Homo sapiens: one gene and its partner. The protein of the gene in region 2 purifies or fractionates together with the protein of the main gene of each other region. This does not show direct contact. Each region holds a gene or a part of one and is shown on either strand. Other genes may lie near its edges.

Evidence for each region.
Region 1: the proteins of PHF20L1 (region 2) and LIN9 purify together in Homo sapiens (affinity purification with mass spectrometry; 2 studies listed by BioGRID and IntAct, with this or other methods). This does not show direct contact.

Annotation. Positions count from the first base shown.
Region 1 is NC_000001.11:226,230,380-226,233,644, forward strand, and holds the end of LIN9 (protein lin-9 homolog), read right to left. Parts: intron 3,145-3,265; coding exon 2,965-3,144; intron 2,815-2,964; coding exon 2,717-2,814; intron 2,228-2,716; coding exon 2,122-2,227; 3' UTR 778-2,121; downstream 1-777. UniProt on the Homo sapiens protein: Acts as a tumor suppressor. Inhibits DNA synthesis. Its ability to inhibit oncogenic transformation is mediated through its association with RB1. Plays a role in the expression of genes required for the G1/S transition.
Region 2 is NC_000008.11:132,841,145-132,845,155, reverse strand, and holds part of PHF20L1 (PHD finger protein 20-like protein 1), read right to left. Parts: intron 2,642-4,011; coding exon 2,281-2,641; intron 1,004-2,280; coding exon of another isoform or gene 1,001-1,003; coding exon 838-1,000; intron 1-837.

The DNA.
Region 1 (3,265 bases), on a different chromosome or scaffold from region 2:
ATTTCTTCCTCCCAAAACAGAAATAAAATTCAACTGTATTCTCCAGCACAGTCCCTGCTGTCAACACATGAAGGCACTGAAAGATAAACAGTGCTCAATTAAATATGTGTAAAATGAGGTACTATTTAAGTGTGACAAATAAGCCTTAAGAAATGTAAGTAAGACAGGCCGGGTATGGTGGCTCACACCTGTAATCCCAGCACTTTGGGAGGCTGAGGCAGGTGGATCACTTGAGGTTGGGAGTTCGAGACCAGCCTGACCAATACGGTGAAACTCTGTTTCTACTAAAAATACAAAAATTAGCCAGGCGTGGTGGCGCGTGCCTGTAATCCCAGCTACTCAGGAGGCTGAGGTGGAAGAATCCCTTGAACCCAAGACCTGGAGGTTGTGGTGAGCTGAGATTGCATCACTGCACTCCAGCCTGGGCGACAGAGAAAAAAAAAAAGAAATGTAAAAGAAAAAATGCACAAAATACCCAATTCTAGGCAGAATATATTAAAATCAACCTTTCACTAGGTCTATACCAGGCCAAATAACTTACCTGCTTAATACCATACCACTGGATGGTATGGTAATAAATAAAATCCGTATCACTGGATGGTATGGTATGGTAATAAATAAAATCCATACCATTGGATGGTATGGTACTTCAGAGAGACTCGGTAATCTGTACTGTTTCCCCTAAAAATATAACTTAATGGAAATTACAATTCTTCAAAACTTTTTAAACAGAAGGAATGCATATTGACTTGAATTAAATGAAAATATAGAAAATAATAATTTTCATAGATCAATTTATTTAGAATTACAAATATTAAGAATAGAAGATTTATGCATTTCTTAATTAACATAACAGTTTAGCTAAATATAAACTCTGCACTAAAGTTCTGCAGTGGCACAATACCAACAAAGAATACGGAAGCCTTTTTAAACTATACAAAAATTTCAAATGGAAAATAATCTTGTTTCAGTTTTATTATACATTAACATATAAAAAGTCTCATTTTATGAGACATCTAAAGGAATTAAAACCACCTCTACAGCTATATCTTAAACTCCAAATTTGAAAAAAATTTATATTTTGAGTTTATAATATTCTATTAAAACGAAGAAAATTCCAAATACATACTTTTTACAAGATTAACATTTTAGGCAGCGTTTTCCTAAAAAAGAAAAACAACCAAAACAAGCCTTTCTTCTGCATTTCACAGCACTGGTTATTATATTTGTTTTCCTTATAAAATCTTTTTACTTTATAAATTGTGTACTGTTGGATTTTAACCAGTAATCTGGTTTAAAAGTTGTGCAAATAAACAAAAAAATATGAAAATAGTGTGTTATCATTTTTTTTTTAATAAATCTCACAACAATGCACTTTTGACCTGAACTGATGGGAAGACATGCCAAATCCATTTTTAGAAATTTAGCATTTTGCACCTTTTTTCCCCCTGTTCCTTCATTTTCTTTCAACAAACAACAAAGGTTTCTTTTATATGTTATGATAAATTAAAATATTTATTATTATAAAATGATCTACAGAACCATGTCACATTGCAAGTATATATAACATATACTTGTAAAGTCCACATTTCCCATCTATATTTCAGTGGTTTCCTTAAAACTAGGACTTCCCACACCTCATGATGTTATCTTTTGAAGACTGAGATGGTGATCAACTAAATCAAGTGGAGTTGTAATTTTCTGGATGGAATTTCCACACTGCCACCGACATGAATAAAAAGACCAGGTTTCTTCATACTCTCCATTGCAGCAGTTGTCTGCATGTGTTGCGGTGAATTCATGCACATTAAAAAAAATGGTCAATGTATTCTTCCACGAAATTATATTATGTTCAGATATTTCAGTTTAAAAATATTTGTGAATATAAACATATGTAACATAAGCAATGCTACTGCATCTGAATAATAAAAGAAAAATAAATATAATGCTGGTCAGCAATGCTGGTTTAAGAAGCAGTACAGTCTATTAAAATGCCTTATTTGGAGATTTAAATTTCCCTTGTTTTCCAGCAGTTAGGTTATTTGGTGTTGGAAGCCTATATAAAGGAAAAGAACTTCTCAAAAACAATGTCCCGTGCAGTTGGAATAATGAAATCTTTACTCAGTCTCTGTTGGTGTTATTTGCTGCAAAGGCATGTAAGTTTCCCATCTGGCTCAGGCCACTCTGAATATGTGCAACATGGATTTCTACATTATTCTGAAAGCAACTAAAGAAAGAAGAAACATGGTTAACTACTTTATTTCAAAAAATTAAGAAAAAAATTTTTAAAAGAAGACCTGAATTTTAGTTAGGAAACAGCTATGATAAATCTTAGGGAAGGAATAAATCTCCTCTAATATATTAGCCATAATTCTACTTCAGTAGTAGTTGAACAAATATGCTCTAAAGAAGCAAAGGAGCCACGGGGGGCTGGAAGGAGAAGATGAGTCTCTCACTGACTGGGGAAGCTCTACCTCTAAGCTCAACCTCCATGCTGACCCCAAACCTAAATATATGTCCTGATTTCTTTATATACAAAATCCATGTGAAATTTCTATTCTGTCCATAGGCTGGATATAAGTGAAAAGCTCTTACAAATATATTTAACGGATAATAATATATGAGTACTTCACAAATATGCATAATTCTTAAAACCTGGACTGAAAATTACTATGAACTTCACATTAAAATGATTAGAGTATACCTAACGAATTACCTGATATTAGAAGCGTCTATTGTACTCTTGATATCATTTAATGAGTCTGTAAGTGATTTGAATTCAAAGGAATTCAGGTCTCCTCCTTCTGCTAGACACTAAAGGGAAAAAAATTTCAAAATTTAATTGCATTATAGCTCAAATATAGTCATAAAATACCTGATATAATCAATGAATTAATTTCTTAGCAACAAATTAGCGTGGGTTGCTTTGTGTCAAATTAAGAAAATATTTTCTCTAAGATTTACCTTAATTTGTAACAAAATAGCTGTAAGCCTGGAAATTAAGTCTGTCAGATTTTCATTTTCAACGCAGGGCTGTCCTGTTGAGGAATTTGCATGCCGAACAATTTCCTGTGCTTCTTCCTCACACCTGCGTCTCATATCTGTTGGCTGATCTGCAGGCTGGAGCCCCTGGTCTGGAGCAAGCTGAATACAGATGATTGAAGCATGAGACGCATGTTCGAGAAGCCATGATTATTTCTGTATGTGTTTGTGCCCTCTTTTCAGATTTTAATTTTTATAAAACTAGCATTTAAAACTAAAGTGG
Region 2 (4,011 bases):
ATAGTATCAAGATGCATTTTCTTTTCTTCAAACATGGACTCAAAACATCACATTAACTCTACAGTTAGCTTATACCCAGATGGAAGAGGCTTCTAAAATGGGTTTCCATTTTCTCTCTTCTTCTCTCAAGGGGGAAAAAAAGGAGTAGGAGCTCTAACTTAGTGTAGAGGAGAGGTATCACGTGCTTATGCCAAATTAAAAAAAGTAAAGTTGGGGTGCAGAATATCGTCTATGATGTTAGGAAGAAACAGGAGTCAGAAAGCATTAAGAACAACATGGACTGAGAATCAGGTAGTCTAAGTTACTCTAGTTTCTCAACTATAAAGTAGTGATAGTATCTTTCTTGCCCACTTTTCAGGCCTCCTGTGTGATGACACAATTTTAAAATATAAAAGAAAACCACTTAAGGTTTACCTACTTAACTTTGTAGAAGTTTTTGTTAATTTAACAAGTGCTAACCAAAGTAAAAAATATTCAAAATGTTTTCACATTTCAAACATGCTTAAATTCCTTATGTTGACTTCCAAAGAAAGCTTAGTTCAATGAAACTAATCAATTTATTCCATAAGTGATCTATCTGGAGCCTGGCAAATAGACAGTATTTAATAAATATCCACCTTAAAAAAGTAAAAACAACCTAAGGTCATACCCGGTCACATTGTTTTAAGCGTAAAAGATCCCAAATGTGTTAAATACAATACAAAGGGAGTAATAAAGCCCCATCGGTATGGAGAGTATCTGCAGTTTTCATCCCATAATTTAAGAATTTTAAGTAACTTCTTCATAGTAACAATAAATTCACTATAGTAACTGTATTTTAGTTCTTTCTTAAATTACCATCGACTTCTTTTTCTATTAGGTCCATCCTGCTGGTAACTTCGTTCTGCACATTTTCTATGTGTGTAAGGAGATTGAGCTGCCACTGAAGATGTGAGTCTCCTGGGTCTTCGGTGCCCTTTTTATCATTATAAACAAATACTGTATTCCCTTCAGCTGGATTCTTCTCCAAAGGACCATTGGAAAATAAACACAAAGAACGGGATGAAATGCAGTCATTGAGTTAAGGATACAGGAAACACCTCATCACTGGTAACAGTTAGTGAGATCCAATCTGACTCCAGGGGTATCTTTAAAGAAGTACTGCTACATAACCAAATTCCAGCTGGTGGTTCTTAAGAGCTGATGCACCCACCACCTCCCTCCACTATGCCTCGCATGGTGCTACACAGGCAAGAAGGCTTCAATAAAATGCGCTAAATAAATGAAGTCACTAATTCTATTGTGTAATTAGAATTCCTGATTAATTTAGACTGGCCTCTTCCTCAATTAATCTCAGCTGGTGATATAAGTGGACATAAGAGTGGAAAGCAATGATGAAAAGAAATCAAGAGCGTTTCCAAAGACCAGTATAAAATCTAATTAACTACAGACTGGACTTTACTGTTATAGTACAGTAAATCAATGAAGGGAGGGAAAGGCAAAAACCTTTTACAAGTTTCAAAAGTACAAACTGCTTCACACACACACACACACACACACACACACACACAATGTGCGTTTGGATTTGCCAGAGATAACTCATTTTGCACATGGGATATTAATTAAACAAAATAACTTACCACAAACTTTATGATACGAAATACAAACGTTCCAATTCACTTAAGTACTTATTTATGGTAATTACTTGTTAAGGAATGCAGAAAAAAAACATCTAATTTTAAAGTGGCCTCATTAATTGAAAATCAGTAAAAAATAAAGGTACATTTCTAAGATAATCCCAGTGAACAGGAAATAAGTTTATAGATGTCCAATGCACATAGATCTGTCAGAATTCACCTTACTGAATAGTGGGATGCATTGACAAACATGCTAAAATTTTTTAAACAGACAATTAGAGTGCCACCTTTTATCTAACTCACATAAAGAGGAAGACAAATCATTACACCCATATGTACTTTCACATTCTTACACACTGACATTTTCGTTTTGAATACAATGTGGTTCATTTTTTAGAAGCATCGAAATGTACTTATACAATTGAAACTTTTGTTAGAGTAACAGTTTATTGAATTACTACAATTCTGAATTAGGAGATAATCAAATGTTCAAATGGCCAGTGTTTTCCTGTAGAGAAAACAAAAAAATCTCCTTACTTTAACAAGGTACTGGGGAACTTGGAAATACAACTAAAATCTGGGAATTCAGTATGCCTTATTTTATAAAATTTTCCTTTGTTCTTCTCTCATAGTTTCCAAGCAAAGAAAAATGAACTAGTTTTACCTTTTCAGGCATTCCATGTTCTTTTGCTGAGTACTGTAAACTGTTTTTACTTCTCATGTGGAATTCTTGTTCTTCTTCCAAACTACTAACATCATCATCATCTGAGCTCCCAGGGTCTGCGAGAGATTTACAGTCCTGACCAAAACTTTGTGGCTTTTGATAGCTATGCTCACTTGTTATATAAGTTCCTTCCATTTTTAGGGGCAAACGAGGTGGTTCTTTATGGTTCTGTACATATTTCTTTTCTTCTCGATTAACTGTGTCTTGAGCTATTTTTTTCTCCACCCCAGCTATTATTTGATCTTGGTCTTTTCGCTTCCCGGAACAAGCCCAGAGATGAAGGTCAGGATGATGTTTATTCCTTAAAACAAAGTTGGAAAAACAGCAGTTCAGAAAAAAAAAAAAATCTATTAACAAGCTGAATACAATGATCTATTTCAGAATTAGGTTAGGAGGACATCTAGGACTCAAGACAAAAGCAAAGGTAATCTTTAAATTAACTCCCTCCATGATTTCATCCAAAATTTGAATCTTCTCAATTAAAGAAATAATACTCAGAAAAGCAATAACAAATTTAATTGTGTTGATAGTTCACATCATCATTTGATACATGCATTTCTTTTTCTACTGATTTGTCATTGTCATTTTCATTGTAAAATTTGAAAAACTTTAATGTGAGCATATTTTAAAAACTTTTATTCAGTCAAAAAGTGATAACTCCTGATGACAAAAATCCTAAATATAAATGCACAGAAAGTAAAAATTTCCTCTCCCATGGCAAACATAAATAACTGAGGTATAATCTTCCAGACTTTTTCTGTATACCTAAAATTAGTTCTTAAATGGATAAGTATACACATCTTCTTGTGACACATCCAGGACACATACAATCTGCCTTTTTGTACGTAACATGCTAGGGGCATCTTGCCATATCATGTCATACAGATAGATTTCCCTTACTTTTACTCTAGGGCTGAAGAGTTACAAATGTACCAGTCGAGCCAACCAATTCCCTACCATTATATGTTTGTGTACCTGTGTGTGTCTTTGCACACAAGTCAGAATATTTCAGTCAGATAAATTTCTAGATATGGGATTGCTGGATAACATGCACATTTATTTTGATAGGTACTACCCAAGTGACCTCAAAAGGGATTATACTAATTACAACCCCATCAACAATCTTTGATAATGCCCATTTACTTCATCCTCACTGAACATGTAAGCATGATATTGTACAGTTAATTCTGCAGTAAGTAAAACAGGAATCCAATCATCAGAGCTGAAGTGAAAGGGCATTCGGGAGATATAAACCTTTCAAAAGGCTCAATAATGTTTGCATATTAATAATTTCCAAATTAGATACATACTGAGTCAAATTAGTTCTCTTCCAATAATACTCAAGTATTGTTTCTGAAATTATAAATTTTATCATTTGAATCCCTAGTAGTTTAATATTCAGAAAATACTAAAACACTCAATCAGTAAAAGGCATAGTAGAAGAAAAGCTGGCACTGCAGTCCAATAGTCCAAGGGGTTGAATTCTGCTGTGCCATAGAGAAGCCTGAACAAGTTACAAAATCTCTTTCACTACCCAACAATGAAATGAGGTAGCTTATGATAAGGATTAAATGAAATATCACATGAAAGCACATGACGTGTAGGACTTTCAATAAATCGTACATACTAACAGATATTATGATTTAAAATATTAACATAAAGAGGGCCTAT